Linked DNA regions of Homo sapiens. The protein of the gene in region 2 interacts with the protein of the main gene of each other region in a pairwise test. Each region holds a gene or a part of one and is shown on either strand. Other genes may lie near its edges.

What was found.
Region 1: the proteins of GRSF1 (region 2) and GTF2E2 interact in a two-hybrid assay, tested with the Homo sapiens proteins (one study listed by BioGRID).
Region 3: the proteins of GRSF1 (region 2) and GSE1 interact in a two-hybrid assay, tested with the Homo sapiens proteins (one study listed by BioGRID).
Region 4: the proteins of GRSF1 (region 2) and UBE3C interact in a two-hybrid assay, tested with the Homo sapiens proteins (one study listed by BioGRID).

The regions. Positions count from the first base shown.
Region 1 is NC_000008.11:30,613,221-30,616,841, reverse strand, and holds part of GTF2E2 (transcription initiation factor IIE subunit beta), read left to right. Parts: intron 1-2,126; coding exon 2,127-2,234; intron 2,235-3,621. UniProt on the Homo sapiens protein: Recruits TFIIH to the initiation complex and stimulates the RNA polymerase II C-terminal domain kinase and DNA-dependent ATPase activities of TFIIH. Both TFIIH and TFIIE are required for promoter clearance by RNA polymerase.
Region 2 is NC_000004.12:70,833,317-70,836,937, reverse strand, and holds part of GRSF1 (G-rich sequence factor 1), read left to right. Parts: intron 1-623; coding exon 624-780; intron 781-3,621. UniProt on the Homo sapiens protein: Regulator of post-transcriptional mitochondrial gene expression, required for assembly of the mitochondrial ribosome and for recruitment of mRNA and lncRNA. Binds RNAs containing the 14 base G-rich element.
Region 3 is NC_000016.10:85,612,141-85,616,121, reverse strand, and holds the start of GSE1 (genetic suppressor element 1), read right to left. Parts: upstream 2,801-3,981; 5' UTR 2,731-2,800; coding exon 2,724-2,730; exon of another isoform or gene 2,294-2,723; intron 592-2,293; exon of another isoform or gene 568-591; intron 549-567; exon of another isoform or gene 1-548.
Region 4 is NC_000007.14:157,208,311-157,211,931, reverse strand, and holds part of UBE3C (ubiquitin-protein ligase E3C), read right to left. Parts: intron 1-3,621. UniProt on the Homo sapiens protein: E3 ubiquitin-protein ligase that specifically catalyzes 'Lys-29'- and 'Lys-48'-linked polyubiquitin chains.

The DNA.
Region 1 (3,621 bases), on a different chromosome or scaffold from region 2:
TTTCTTATTTACTTTAAAAAACACTTTTTTTTTTAGAGCAGTTTTAGGTTCACAGCAAAATTGATTGGAAAATACAGAATTCTCATCCATTCCCTGCCCATCCCCCCACAGCTTCCTCCACTATCAACATCCTGCACCAGAAGAGTACATTTGTGACAGTCAATGAACCTACGTTGACAAATTACCACTCAAAGTCCATAGTTTACATGAGTTCACCCTTAGTGGTGTTCTTTCTGTGGGTTTGGACAAGTGTATAATGACCTATGTCCACCACTCTAGTATCCTCCTGAGTATTTTCACTGCCCTAAAAATTCTCAGGGCTCTGCTTGTTCATCCTCTCCCCTCAACCCTTGGCAGCCACTAAACTTTTTTTAATTTTTAATTTTTAAAATTATTTATTTATTTTTAAAACAGAGTCTTGCTCTGTTGCCAGGCTGGAATGCAATGGCTTGATCTTGGCTCACTGCAACCTCCGCCTCCCAGGTTCAAGTGATTCCCCTGCCTCAGCCTCCCGAGTAGCTGAGACTACAGGCACCCGCTACCACGCCTGGCTAATTTTTTGTATTTTAGTAGAGATGGGATTTCACCATGTTGGCCAGGATGGTCTCGATCTCCTTACCTTGTGGCCTGCTTCGTTTTCCCAAAGTGCTGGGATTACAGGTGTGAACCACTGCATCTGGCCTGCAGCCACTAAACTTTTTATTGTCTCCATGGTTTTTGCCTTTTCCGGAATGTCAACAGTTGGAGCCATACAGTATGTATCCTTTTCAGATTGGCTTCTTTCCCTTAGTAATATGTATTTAAGGTTTCTCCATGTTTTTTTCATAGCTTGATAGCTCATTTCGTTTTAGCACTGGATAGTATTCCATCGTCTGGATATACCACGGTTTATTTACCCACTCACCTACTGAAGGACATCTTGGTTGCTTCCAGCTTTTGGCAATTATGGATAAAGCTGTAATAAGCATCCTTAGTGGATTTTTGTATGTACATAATTTTTTGGCTCATTTGGGTAAATACCAAGGATCGTGATTGCTAGATTGATCAAATGGTAAGAGTGTGTTTAGTGTTGTAAGAAACTGCTGAACTGTCTTCCACAGTAGCTGTACCATTTAGCATACTCACCAGTAATGAATGACAGCTCCTGTTCCTTTGCATCCTCTCTAGCTTTTGGTATCTACGTGTGTGTGTGTGTTTTCTTTGGATAGGCATGATACATATGTTTTTTAACTTATTAATTTGTCTTGGACATCTTTTCAAATTAGCACATAGAGAACTTTTACATTTACTTTGTGAACATCTGTGTAGTGGAATGGATGTGCTGTAGTTAATCTGTCTTCTAATATGGACGCTTGGGTTATTTCTAATATTTTCCTTTTATGAACAATGCTACAGTGACCATAAGTCACTTTTCTGTGTGGTACTGGTATTTCTGTAGGATAAGTTTCTAGAAATAGGATTGTTTGGTGAAAGTTGAGTGTCTTTTCCTATGTTTAAGGTCATTTTTTGCAATCTGCGCGTTTCTGTCTTTGGGTCATTTTCTGTTAGTTTTGTGTTTTTTCAAGACAGAGTCTTGCTCTTGCCTCCCAGGCTGGAGTGCAGTGGCATGATCTCAGCTCACTGCAGCCTCCTCTTCCCAGGTTCAAGCGATTCTCCTGCCTCAGCCTCCCAAGTAGCTGGGATTACAAGCATGCACCACCATGCACGGCTGATTTTTATATTTTTAGTAGACATGGGGTTTCACCATGTTGGCCAGGCTGGTCTCGAACACCTGACCTGAAGTGATCCCACCTGCCTTAGTCCCCCAGAGTGCTGGGATTACAGCCATGAGCCACTGTGCCTGGTCTATTTTGTTAGTTTTTTGAAGCTCTTGAAATGTTAGGAAGAATATAGCTCTTGGTGATACGAGTTGCATATATTTTTTTGTCAGTTTGTCTTTTGATTTTATAGAGCAATGAGTTTCAACCCCATTCTGATTTCATGGTCTATGGCTCTTCGTCACTATAATTATGCTACCTGGAATAATACATGTTTTTCATTCCTGAAGGTTTGTTTACATGTAACTATGATTTAATGCATCTAGCATTTTGAAACTGTCTTCTAATAACAATTTCTTCACTTGATAGACACGGCATCAGCGAGGAGATACGCATCCTCTAACCTTAGATGAAATTTTGGATGAAACACAACATTTAGATATTGGACTCAAGCAGAAACAATGGCTAATGACTGAGGTAAGAATTTAGTTGATTATCAAGAGAGATTTCCTGTAACTAGAATTTTCTTTTTTTTTTAAGACAGAGTCTTGCTCTGTTGCACAGGCTAGAGTGCAGTGGCATGATCTCAGCCCACTGCTGACTCAGCCTCCCGAGTAGTTGGGACTACAGGCATGTGCCACGATACCAGGCTAATTTTTGTGTTTTTAGTAGAGACGGGGTTTCACCATGTTGGCCAGGCTGGTGTTGAACTCCTGACCTCAAGTGATCCGCCCACCTCGGCCTCCCAGAGTGCTGGGGTTATAGGCATGAGCCACTGCGCCTTGCCTAGAATGTTTTAATATGGTGAAATCTGATAATGCTTTTTACTTTTTCTTAAAAGAAATGGTGTAGGGTCTTTGTTTTTTGAATGTACACATTTATAAGATTGATTTGTTGGTTTTCATATAATTTTATGTTATCTGTTTCAAAATGTTAAAGGTAAGACTTTGTGTAATAGTTGTAAAGAAGTCATTGTACCAATTCGACTTAATGTTTTTACAGATTAATGCTTATTTTGTATTGCCAGATTTATAGTTTGTGTGCTTGTAAATTGAATTGTTTTTGTTTTAGGAAATTTAAAGCATAAGGTACTGCAGGGATAGGAAGATATTTTGTTGCACAATTACTGCTATTATGGCTTGATGTGGAAAAAAAGTCGCGAATGCTGTGTATGAACACACATCATTTGAAGAAACCCCAACGCAGTCAGTGACCATGCTAATTTGGAAATGAATAGCATTTAAAAATTCAAATGTTTACCGCTTTAAAATATGAAGTGAAAACTAAGAAGACTACTTTCTAGGACCAGAGATAGATTCTAGAAACCAAATGTAAAATTCCTAACATACAATTCATTTATTTTTTTACCAAGCAAAATACAGGTCTTGACTTTTATAATGTAACATGACCATTAATCAGTATAATTGTAGTTCATTGTATTAGTGATACACAAACAATGGTAATCCACATTTAAATTTGCTGGTTTAGCTAACCTTGAGAATTCATAGACTACCAACATTTAGTTAACAATGACTTTGATCATTTTACTATTCTATTCTCCCTTTTTTCTTCTTTCTGTGTTTCTTCTCTTTCTCCTTTCAGGGTCAGGCTGGCAGCTGCAGAAGAAAATATATAGGGTTGCTCTTTTTGAAGAGCTTTCCTTCTGATACTAACTGTACAACAGAACTGACTAGAAACATAATTATATTCAGTAATTCCTGCATTCCTACTCAGTTTCATTCTCAAGCTGACATTATAGGTAAAGTTCTTGTATGCACTAGTCTGGTCCTTTTCAGTTCCTTCCACAGCTGCCATTGCCAGTTGATAGCAGATGGGGAAGACCATTGACTAGTAAGGGTTATGT
Region 2 (3,621 bases):
TCTTTGGCTCCTAATTTAAACAGTTGGAATTAATTGCTGTTATTCAAATGGGCATTTGGTCGTACTGCTTCTTTCTCTCGCCTTCAAACTGGAATACCCTATCTTTTATATCCTCATAAAAATTCTATCCTTCCTTCAAGGCCCATCTCATGTCACATCCTGATTCATCTGTTAGTGCTCTGATTTGAATTCCTGTAGTATTTTGTATCTTAATTATAGCACTCAGTATCTCATCTTGTATGCTTATCGTATTCTAGATAGCTATTTCAGATGAGGGCGGCAAACACTGTGTGTAGGGGCAATCAAATATTTGTCAAATTGTCAGGACCTTTCTTGTGTTGCCTTAACTACACTATTGTTAGCTATAATTTGGGGTTGATGAATTTTAAAACAAACCCTGAATGAAATTTGTGTCCTGCCAAACCTTTAGGATATACCTGCTTATGGCTTTTGGATGTACAATTTAAGCCAAAACAGGATGGGTTACATTGGTGAAGTTTACTTTTTGCTTCTGAAATAACATCTAGAATGTTAGTTTGTAGAATAAACATTTTCTAAGAATTTTTTTACATTTTTTACCTGTAAATGCAACTCTTTTTACAATTCTTCATTTCCTTTGGAAGGAGTCCAAAACTACTTACCTGGAAGACCTTCCACCACCCCCTGAGTATGAATTGGCCCCGTCCAAGTTAGAAGAGGAAGTGGATGATGTCTTTCTCATTCGAGCTCAAGGACTGCCCTGGTCATGCACTATGGAAGATGTGCTTAACTTTTTTTCAGGTATATTTTATGTATGTTTTATTTATTTATTTTTTTTCCTTATATTGTTTCTCACAAGCAGGTATGTATGTTTTAAGTATGTAATTTTGTCTGAGTAAAAGGTAGTGCTACAAATCCATGTCAGACTACGCTGTCACCTTCCTTTTTGATGGTTGGGAACTGTCTCATTCTGGTTGGTTGCATATACCAAATGATACCATGTGTGCTGTTTGCGGTATGTAACGAATTGAAAGACTTTGGGCCAGGGGCAGTGGCTCAGGCCTGTAATCAGCAGTTTGGGAGGCCAAGGTGGAAGGATGGCTTGAGGCCAGTAGTTCCATACCACACTGGGCAACACTGTGAGACTGTCTCAATTTACATATGTATAAAGACTTTGAATGCAACAAAAGTATTTTAACGTTAAGACTGCATAGTATGGGCCAGGCGCAGTGGCTCACGCCTGTAATCCCAGCACTTTGGGAGGCCGAGGCGGGCGGATCACAAGCTCAGGAGATCGAGACCATCCTGGCTAACATAGTGAAACCCCGTCTCTACTAAAAATACAAAAATTACCCAGGCTTGTAGTCCCAGCTACTTGGGAGGCTGAGGCAGGAGAATGGTGTGAATCCGGGAGGTGGAGCTTGCAGTGAGCCGAGATGGTGCCACTGCATTCCAGCCTGGGCGACAGAGTGAGACTCTGTCTCAAAAAAAAAAAAAAATCCATCATACTATGTAGGTTTTTTTTTTTTTGAGACGGAGTCTCGCTCTGTCGCCAGGCTGGAGTGCAGTGGCATGATCTCAGCTCACTGCAAGCTCCGCCTCCCGGGTTCACACCATTCTCCTGCCTCAGCCTCCCTAGTAGCGACTGCCACCACACCCAGTTAATTTTTTGTATTTTTAGTAGAGCTGGGGTTTCACCGTGTTAGCCAGGATGATCTCAATCTCCTGACCTTGTGATCTGCCTGCCTCGGCTTCCCACAGTGCTGGGATTACAGGCGTGAGCCACCGTGCCCGGCTGGTATGATGGAATACTACGTAGCCATAACAAAGAGTGAGATTATGTGCTTTGCAGCAATGTGGGTGGTGCTGGAGACCATTATCCTAAGCAAACTAACATGGAACATTAAACTTAATACTGTATGTTTTCACTTACAAGTGGGAGCTAAACAATGAGAACACATGGACACAAAGAGGGGAACAAGAAGACACCAGGGCCAACTTGAGGGTTGGGGAGAAGATTAAAAAATACCTATCGGGTCCAAGTGCGGTGGCTCACGCCTGTAATCCCAGCACTTTGGGAGGCCGAGGCGGGCGGATCACGAGGTCAGGAGATCGAGACCATCCTGGCTAACATGTTGAAACCCCATCTCTCCTAAAAATACAAAAAAAATTAGCCGGGCGTGGTGGCACGCTCCCGTAGTCCCAGCTACCTGGGAGGCTGAGGCAGGAGAATCGCTTGAATCTGGGAGGCGGAGGTTGCAGTGAGCTGAGTTCACACCACTGTACTCCAGCCGTGGTGACAGAGAGAGACTCTGTCTCAAAAAGAAAAATAAAACCTATTGGGTACTGTGCTTGCTACCTGGGTAACTAAATTATCTGTATACCGAACTCCCATAACACATGGTTTACCTATGTAGCAGTCCTATACATGTACTAAATAAAAGTTGAAAAACAAAATTACATGGTTTGAAATTATTTTTCTCTGTGGTATTAATATATACATATCAAAAAGTCAAGCCTGTCAGTGGAAATATGGAATTAAGGGTGACTCTTTATGTAATACAGACATTTACAATAGAAGGTCACTTAGTATCAAGGAATAAAGTTCCCTTAATAACATGTTTGGAGGGTTTACATATCTGTGGGATTTTTTTTTTTAGTTTCTGTATCTGACTATGATTTATTTTTATTAATTTTTTTGAGATGGAGTCTTGCTCTGTCACCCAGGCTGGAGTGCAGTAGCGCAATCTCGGCTCATTGCAACCTCCACCTCCCGGGTTCAAGGGATTCTCCTGCCTCAGCCTCCTGAGTTGGTGGGACAGCAGGCACCTATCACCATGCCCGGCTAATTTTTGTATTTTTAGTAGAGACAGGGTTTTGCCGTGTTGGCCAGGTTGGTCTCAAACTCCTGACCTCAGGTGATCCACCACCTTGGCCTCCCAAAGGGCTGGGATTACAGGCATGAACCACCATGCCTGGCTATTTCATTAATTTTTTTAGCTGCTCCTTGTGGAGCAGGAGTAAATCCTAGGCAGTATGCCCAGAGTGAGCCTGGTCAAACTTTTTTTTAAAGCCACTTGGCCACTTACATCTTGGACTACTCCCATTATAAAAAGTATGCAGTATGAAAAGGGGAAAAAGGCTGGGTGTGGTGGCTGATGCCTGTAATCCCAGCACTTTGGGAGACTAAGGTGGGAGGATTACTTAAGCCCAAGAGTTCAAGACCAGCCTGTGCAACAAAATGAGACCGCCTCTCTACAAAAACAAAAAGTTAAACTATGGTAATAAAATTACTCATACAGGAAATATTTTAGAGACCTATGGAGATGATTTTAAAGGAAGACACTTATGTATAAATTTAACTATATTGTATTTCCTTAAGTGATTGTAGAAACATTGCAATAGAAATAATGAATTTTGTGTTGGGCCTATCCTGATTTGCTATTTAATGATCAGGAAGGAGATCATAAGCTTCTGTGCTAAGGTTTGCTTATCTTTTCTACTTGGAAGGTTTTAGAGACTAAATCCTTATTGGTGTTTGGATGACTTCAGTGATGGGGATTTGTGTAAGGAATATGACACTTGTTTCCTGCTTTGTTGTTGGAAAACTGCATTCTTGTGACTTACATAATTGAGCTAAAA
Region 3 (3,981 bases), on a different chromosome or scaffold from region 2:
CTGTGCAGACTTGGCTCTTCCTGGGGCCGGCGATGCTGAGCCCACAGGCAGGCTTGGCTTCTGCTCTGAAACCACAAGGCACTCAGATCTGCAGCCCCTGAACTTCCCCCAGAGACAGGGAAGTGACTGCTGGAGGGGAGGGCTCATCGGGGCCATCGGAGGAGGCTTCCTGCTGTGAGCGCGGTGTCCGCCCCACGCCTGGCCCCAAGCCTCAGTTTGCCCCTTGTTCCTACCCCCAGTGTGTACGTTAGGATCAGCTGGGGAGCTCTGACAACCCCCAGACCCGGGTCAGGAACCCAGAGGCTGTGGCTTAACTGGGCTTGGAAAGGCCTGGCCAGCAGCAGTTTTAAAACACCGAGTTTGGAGATGTACAAGCCCCTTTGAACTCTGACACTCCAAGATCCTAAAAACTGTCCCAAACAGCTCAGAGCCTGCGCCACAGTGGACACCTTGTTGCCTTCCTTGTTTTGAGCTCAGCCTCACTGTGCCTAGAACTAGGACTTCCCGACCTCCCTTCCCAAGGCAGGGCTGACCCTAGGTCACCGGAGGCTCCTGGCGGGCTCTCACCAGCTCTGGCCCGGCACCGCCCCCAAGGCTCCAGGAAAGAAAACTCCAAGCGTCAAAACCGTGGTTGGCTCCAGCTTCCCCAGCTTCCCCTCCTGACTTTGGTGTCTGCTGCCAGAGTGACAAAAGCCATCCTCGCACCCGGCCCGCAGGAGATCAGGAACGCTGCCGACACGGGGCTGGCTGTCTCGGAAAGTCTCTTAGGAAGCACCGAGGTCGCTGCTCTCGCAGGCCAGGGCCTCTTCCAGCGCTCCTGAATCTACCTGGGCGGGGCGACTCCCTGCACAGCCGGCGGCCGGGATGACACACTTCGCCGTCGGAGCCTGCGCCCTGGGCCCCTCACCTGTGGCGTGGCGGCTGAGTCAGGCACAGCCTGTGCCTCAGGTTCTGCCGTCCCTGCTGGTGGAGGCGGCCGTAAACACAGGGTGAGCAACACTGAAGTGCCCCAAGCTTAAGCAACACCGAGGGAGGCCAGGGAAGGCTGCTCACCTGGGTTCCCCCTTCCACCCCTGCCGGGAGGCGGGAGCACGGAATCCCAGAGGAGAGGACGAGACGGCCGACCAGGGGGCACATTTCACAACGCCCCCACCAAGACCTTCTCTCTGCCCCTTTGTCCCCCGCCGCCTGGAAATCGGCTTAGGCGGGTTCGCTTCCACCCGGAGTGCGGCTGGGCCTTTTGTTCAGGCGCCTTTTACAAAAGGAGCCCTCTTTCCATTTGGTGGCCCCGCTTTTTGTTTCCAAACCCCAACCTGTGTGGCCGCTACCCCTCAGGCCCCAGATAAGGCACCGCAGCGGGGAGCAAGGGTTTAGTGTGTTTTAAACGCACTTTGTACAAAGGCTAGTTTGTAAGAGCCAAACCGACTCAACTCCGGCTGGCATCCACCGCCCAGCTGGGAACCCGGCAGGTGCTCCCCCACCGCCAGCACGCTGCCCTCGGAACTCAGACGGGCACTGCGGCCAGGCCCCCGGCCCACCACGTGGAAAGGGCGCAGCCTCCACTCCCCCATCTAATGAGGGTGTCGCGGTGTCCCTTCCCCCCATCTGGGAACCCCCTCCCTATGGCCTGCGCCTCGAGTCTCCACCGCACATTTCTAAGTGCCCCCCTGGTCCCCCACCCGGCGCTGGGGAGGGGAGGCGGAAAGCTGGGGGTGGGCGGGCGCAGGGAGGGTGAGCTCCACTCCCGCTCCGCCTCCATGAAGGGAATTTAATTAGCCTGCTAGAGAGGCGGGCGGGCGGCCGAGGAGGTGTCTCTGGTGCTGCAATATAATTGAATCGGCTCCACTCGGTCGGGCCACTCGCCGCCCATCAGCGCGGCCGCAGGGCCCGGGAGGGCTGGGGGCGGGGAGGCGCATCCAGGCGGAGCAGGAAGGGCCGGGGAGGGAAAAAGGCCAGTGCGGGTGGGGGGCGGCGGATGTGCAATCCCTCTCCCACCTCCGAGGCTGGGGCAGCCATCTTCTGCGGGGGGGAGGGGAGGGGCAGGGAGCCGCTCCGCCGGGGGTGGGGGGAGAGAGAGGAGAGAAGCGGCCGAGCCCGGGGCGCGCCCTTCCTCGGGAAGCAGGGCGTGGGGGTCACAAACCCGGCAGGCTGCGGTCCCGCCCTCCCGACCAACTCCCCCGAGACAAGGGGTCGGGGAGGGGGAGGGGAGCAAGACAAGAACCCTAACCGGCGCGGCCCCAGTAGCGAGCACCCCCCCCCCCCACACCCCCGCTTCCTCGGCCGTCGCCAGCACCTGCCGCGGGGGCGCACAGCCACCCCCATTCGCTCCCTCCCGCGTCGCCGCAAAGTTTTCATTCCAGCTCTCCAGCGCCCGCAGCTCTCGGAGACTCCCCCCGCCACCCCCATCCCCCCACTTTACCTGCCCTCTAGCCCGCACGCACTTAAACGCACCCCCCCCATCCCCCGCTGAGCGCACTCCTGAGCCCGGAGCCCCCGAGTCCCCGCCCGCAGCCAGGCCTCCCAGGCTGCGACCCGCGGGCGGAGGAAGGGGGTGGCCTTTGGTCGCCTGCCCGCCCTCCCGGCTCTTATCGCCGCTAACACTCCGGGGAAGTTGCCCGGGAGCCGTTGGCGGCCGCCCCCGCGAAACCCGCGAACTTGCAGGAGGACAGTGCGGTGGGGGGAGGGGGGAGGACCCCGTCCCCGGCCGGGTGCGGCGCGCTCACCTTTCATGCCAGGGCCCCGCAGCTCCACCTCGGCTGATACATGCTGGAGCCACCGTCGCCCAGTGTTTGTCTAAACTGCTTATCTCACCCGGGGCTGCTCGGCGGCGGCAGCTCGGGCCCGCTGGGGAGGTGGAGCTTCCGGGGCCCCGGCCAAGAAACACCTGCTGCTGTCGCCGCCGAGGACACACCCAAACGCAACGCCGCCCACTCCCGGGCCACTGGCTCGCTCCCGGCTCCCTGACCTCAGCCAGCGGGAGGTGTCGGGTTTCAGCCGCAAACACACAGGCGCGCGCGCGCGCACCGACGGGCGCCCGGATCCACCCGCCCAGGCACACGCCCCTCCCCGGCCCGGCCGGCCAGGTGAGCCGGGGACACCAGCGGGGCCGCGGAGGTGCCACCCCCACACTCTCGGGAGCCCCTGGCTGGACTGCTCGGGGGTCCCGGGGACCTTGGTGGCTAAGACCGGCCACTTAACTCTTAAAGTAGTGCAGCACCCTCGCCACGTGAGCGGAGCCCTGTCTCGCAGCTGCGTCCCGGGAACCTAGAACAGTGCCTGACACAGAGCAGGCCCAATAATGGGCGGACGGGTAACTCCGTGTCCTGGAGGCCTTTTGGAGAACAACTTTCTGGGCGCTGGTGGCGCGTGGGGTGGGGGGAGGCGACACAAAACAGACTGTGTACCCAAGCCCCACCCCCCCCATGCCTGACCTTATTACCCCAACTAGAAAAGGCTGAATACTAAGAACTTGGCCTCAAAATTCCATAAGGCACCCCACCCCCCAGTTTTAAGTAACTTTTGGGAAGGCCACAATTGCGGGCCGCTGCGGGGGGTGTTCTTTAAAGAACCCGCGGCCCAGGGGCTGGAGAACCCACGGAGGCGCCGCTTCGCCAGGGGGATCATTAAGTAGCTGGGGTTGCGGTCAGAGGCGAGGTCGCCCGCCTCCAGAAACTGGCACGACCCATTGCGCTTCTGGCCCCAGCGCAGCGCCTCCCCATTCCTGGCACCCCCCACCCTACCTCACCCAGGCACTTGACTGGAATGACTCAGGGAGCGTCCTGAAATTCCTGGGCACCCACAGGCGGCGCGGAGAGGGACTGAAGGCCCCAGCCTTCCCACCCCCCGGCTCCGCCCACCCCGCCCCGCCCCGCCCCGCCCCCACCCCATCGCGGCGGGCGCGTCCCCAGGAAGCTCGGGGTTAAAGGGGCGGGCCTCGGGGGCAGGGGTCGGCGAGCCTCCCCTGCCGCCTTCTGGCGCCCT
Region 4 (3,621 bases), on a different chromosome or scaffold from region 2:
TCTCTCCTGTGTGCTTCCACAGGACCGGCCTCTGTGGTTTGCTGTTTCCCACTGTCATTAGCTGAATGCATGTCTCCTTCACTACGTGGTGATACTGCAGGAACAGGCACCCTGTGTGAATTCATTTATGATCCCTTAGCATAGAGCTGTGTCACTATGGGTGGGATGAATACTGTGAGTGTTCAAATAACTGAGAATAAAACACTCTAACCTATGAAAGTCATGAAGTATCTGGTATGCACTGCTGCTGTCAAGGGTTAACCAAATTTTATATAGCCCTTAGTTACCACTTGTTAACCCATTTATGCCTAGTGTTCCATTACTGGAACGCTAAGCTTGTGGGATTTATATTCTACTGCTCAAGGTCATTGCCAAGGCCTGATTTTTCACACAAAAAATTCGCAACCTCTGGCACAAACGGGTTAAAAACTGGAGTATTTTGAAAAACAGTATTCTTCAGCACATATTTAAAACACTATAAAATTACTGCATATAGCATCCACTTTAGTAGTCAAAAAACAAAAACAAAATCAATCAAAATCTTCAATAACAGAAAAGGATAAGGCACAGCGCTACAAGCTTTGGATCTCTTGGTTGTAACATAGTCAAATGGTCGCATGTTAGGATTATATTAACAGGGCACTGCTGTTGCTTTATTACTTTTTAAAAATAGCTTTTTGGAACTGAAAAAATACAACTTAACCACTAAGGAAGTAAAAAAATCACTCATAGTATGGCTCTCTCTCTCTCTCTCTCTCTCTCTCCAGACATATGGATAATGAGGGCATGGGAACCTTCCTCCTCATTCCCTGCCACTTCCTCCTGTTTCCCTATCACAGGAGGAAACTCCTGTTAAGTTTGGTGGATGCACACAGACATCTCAAAACAGGATTTCCTATCTCATCAAGCTAAAGTAATTATAGCTCTAAATTACACTTCAAGAGGAGTTTATAAATTTGATAAATGCATAAACTGTTTTAGCAGTGTCAAGACAGGGCTTAGAAAGTGACCTCAATTCTTACAGTGACAAAGAAAGATGACTCTATCCACTTAAAATTCTATGCTCTGTGACCAGCCAGCAGAGCCTCTCACACAAATGACTTTGGGAGGACCATGATAGGACTGAAAAATGAAAATGGTCGGTGTTGAAGGAGTCAGGTCTCATCGTTTGCAATTCTGTCAAAATCAATGGAAGGCAGGAGATCATGGGCTAAACGCTTCTGCGTTCTTTGGTTGATTCTACCTCGAATTCTTCAACTCAAATTTGGCACAACAATAATATGAAAAATGCTGATACAATTTGTATTCTTTTCAGAAGGGGAGTGTAGAATAGCAGCTGGTTCTACCATCATATACATGACCTCATCTGTAAAACAAATTATAGTATCTTTCTCACAGAACTATTGTATTAAATGAATATATGCAAAACTCTTAGAATACTGCCTAAAACACAGTTAACTACAGAGGTGTAAGTTCATACAACTTCATAATAGAGATAGTATTTTCTTAAAAGAACAGCTAACAGCAGCTGATTACTCAAAAATTATGCAGTGATTTTTATTTTGGGGGCTCAGCTCAATAGCAGGTAGCATAAAATGGTTTGGGGGACAGGTGACCAAAGAACAGAAATCCTTTAAAAAAAAAAAGGTCTTTAAACAATTCTAAACTCAAAAGGTCTTACAACAACTTGATTTCAAACCTAAAACAATCACCACCACCAACAAAAAAAAGGTAAATTTTCACCCTCTTTTTTTTTGGAGAGAGAGTCACCCTACCGCCCAGGCTGGAGTGCAGTGGCGCTATCTCGGCTGACTGCAACCTCTGCCTCCCGGGTTCTAGCAATTCTCCTGCCCCAGCCTCCCTAGTAGCTGGGATTACAGGCGTACATCACGCCCAGCTAATTTTTTGTATCTTTAGTAGAGATGGGGTTTCACCATCTTGGCCAGGCTGGTCTCAAACTCCTGACCTCGTGATCCACCCGCCTTGGCCTCCCAAAGTGCTGGGATTATAGGCGTGAGCCACCACACCCGGCCTTGCCCTAACTCTTAAAACTTTCAATGATGAATAAAGTGGCAGGGAGTCATTTTGAGGCATAAAAAAATTCTGTACAAACTTTTCATTTAACGCTTAACCAAAACAAAATAAGGCCAGGGTGGAAAATATCTTATATGGCATTATTAAGTTCAGAGATTTCTACATACTAAAGATAAGCCTGTCATGGAAATTATGAAACTCTCAACAGATGCCATAAAACAGTGAAATTATCTGATATCATACACAACACCTGATATTGCACATCATGGAAAGCTTTATTAACAAAGACCCCAGGGTTTAATCAAATATTGAAAGGAAAACAAATATGCTACCGTTAACACCCACATCCAGGAAAAGCTTATGTAAGAATTATAAGTTTTAAATAGGTGAGACTGCTTATTTTTTAACATAGAAAAATTGCAAATTTGTCAATCTTTAAGAAAGGATATAGTAAAGGCTTACCATGTGACCGTCCCAGTTTACTTAGGAATACAGAAATAGGTAATTAAAATAAATTGTGCAAACATATATTACATCAATCTGCCCAAATTATAAATTCAACGATGCATTAGGACTGTATTCAGTGCAATCAAAACATTATCAGTTACGGCTGCTGCTGCTAATGCTCATGCTCCTAAGAGAAATGTGTTGTAAAACCAGGCAGAACGGGCTGGAGAGAGACTCTCGTGGACTTGGAGGATGAATAAGCATTCCTTAATTAGCCCATCAGGTTAAGTGCAAGCATTAATGGGCCCTTCCTAAAGTCTAGCTTGACATCTTTCTCCAAACATGGCCAAGAAGAAAGTTCCATTAGCAATATTAATACAAGCTTAGTTGATCATTTTCATTCAATTAACTTCTTTCAATTAAATAGATAGCTTGACAAAAGCAGTGATAAAAGACCCAAAGGGACAGCTGATGACTCGAACTGAACATTAGTGTGCGAGAGGTCGCTGGTATTAAACGGACTGTAAATCTAGCATTCAATTTGGAAAATGCATTTCTTCTGCTCTCACTCCTTTAATGAGCAATTTTAGCTGACTAGATGTGTTTGCTGCAGAAATTTCATGGGAAGTCAAGCACCCTTTTCCTTTTCTTTTTTTCCATCCCAACAGTTACATTCTCACTGGTGGTGGTTTCCTGCCAACATTCCAGCCACAGTAACTCAAAACTTCACTTTCTGGTTAAGAACGAAGATATGTTAAAATAATTTATATACAACTAGCATTAAAAATTAATGACCTACTTTACGTTGTTAATCAATTTTTGAAAGGTTTGAAAAAACAATAAAATCTAAGAAATATTTAGTGAAAAATAAAAACATTTTAAAAACTGTATTTATATTTCATCGTGTCACAGTTAAGTAGTTAGGGCCACATAGAAAAGATGCATGTAACAAGGTTTAAAAACATGGTTTTAAGTGAGGCAAATGTAAATTAAAATGAAAGTAATTTTAGTTAATTAAATTACCTTAATTAATCAAAAGTACTAAAATTACTTTTCTTAATTAAAAAGGTATATAGGCCAGCTGCAGTGGCTCACGCCTATAATCCCAGCACTATGGGAGGCAGAAGCAGGAGGAATCCA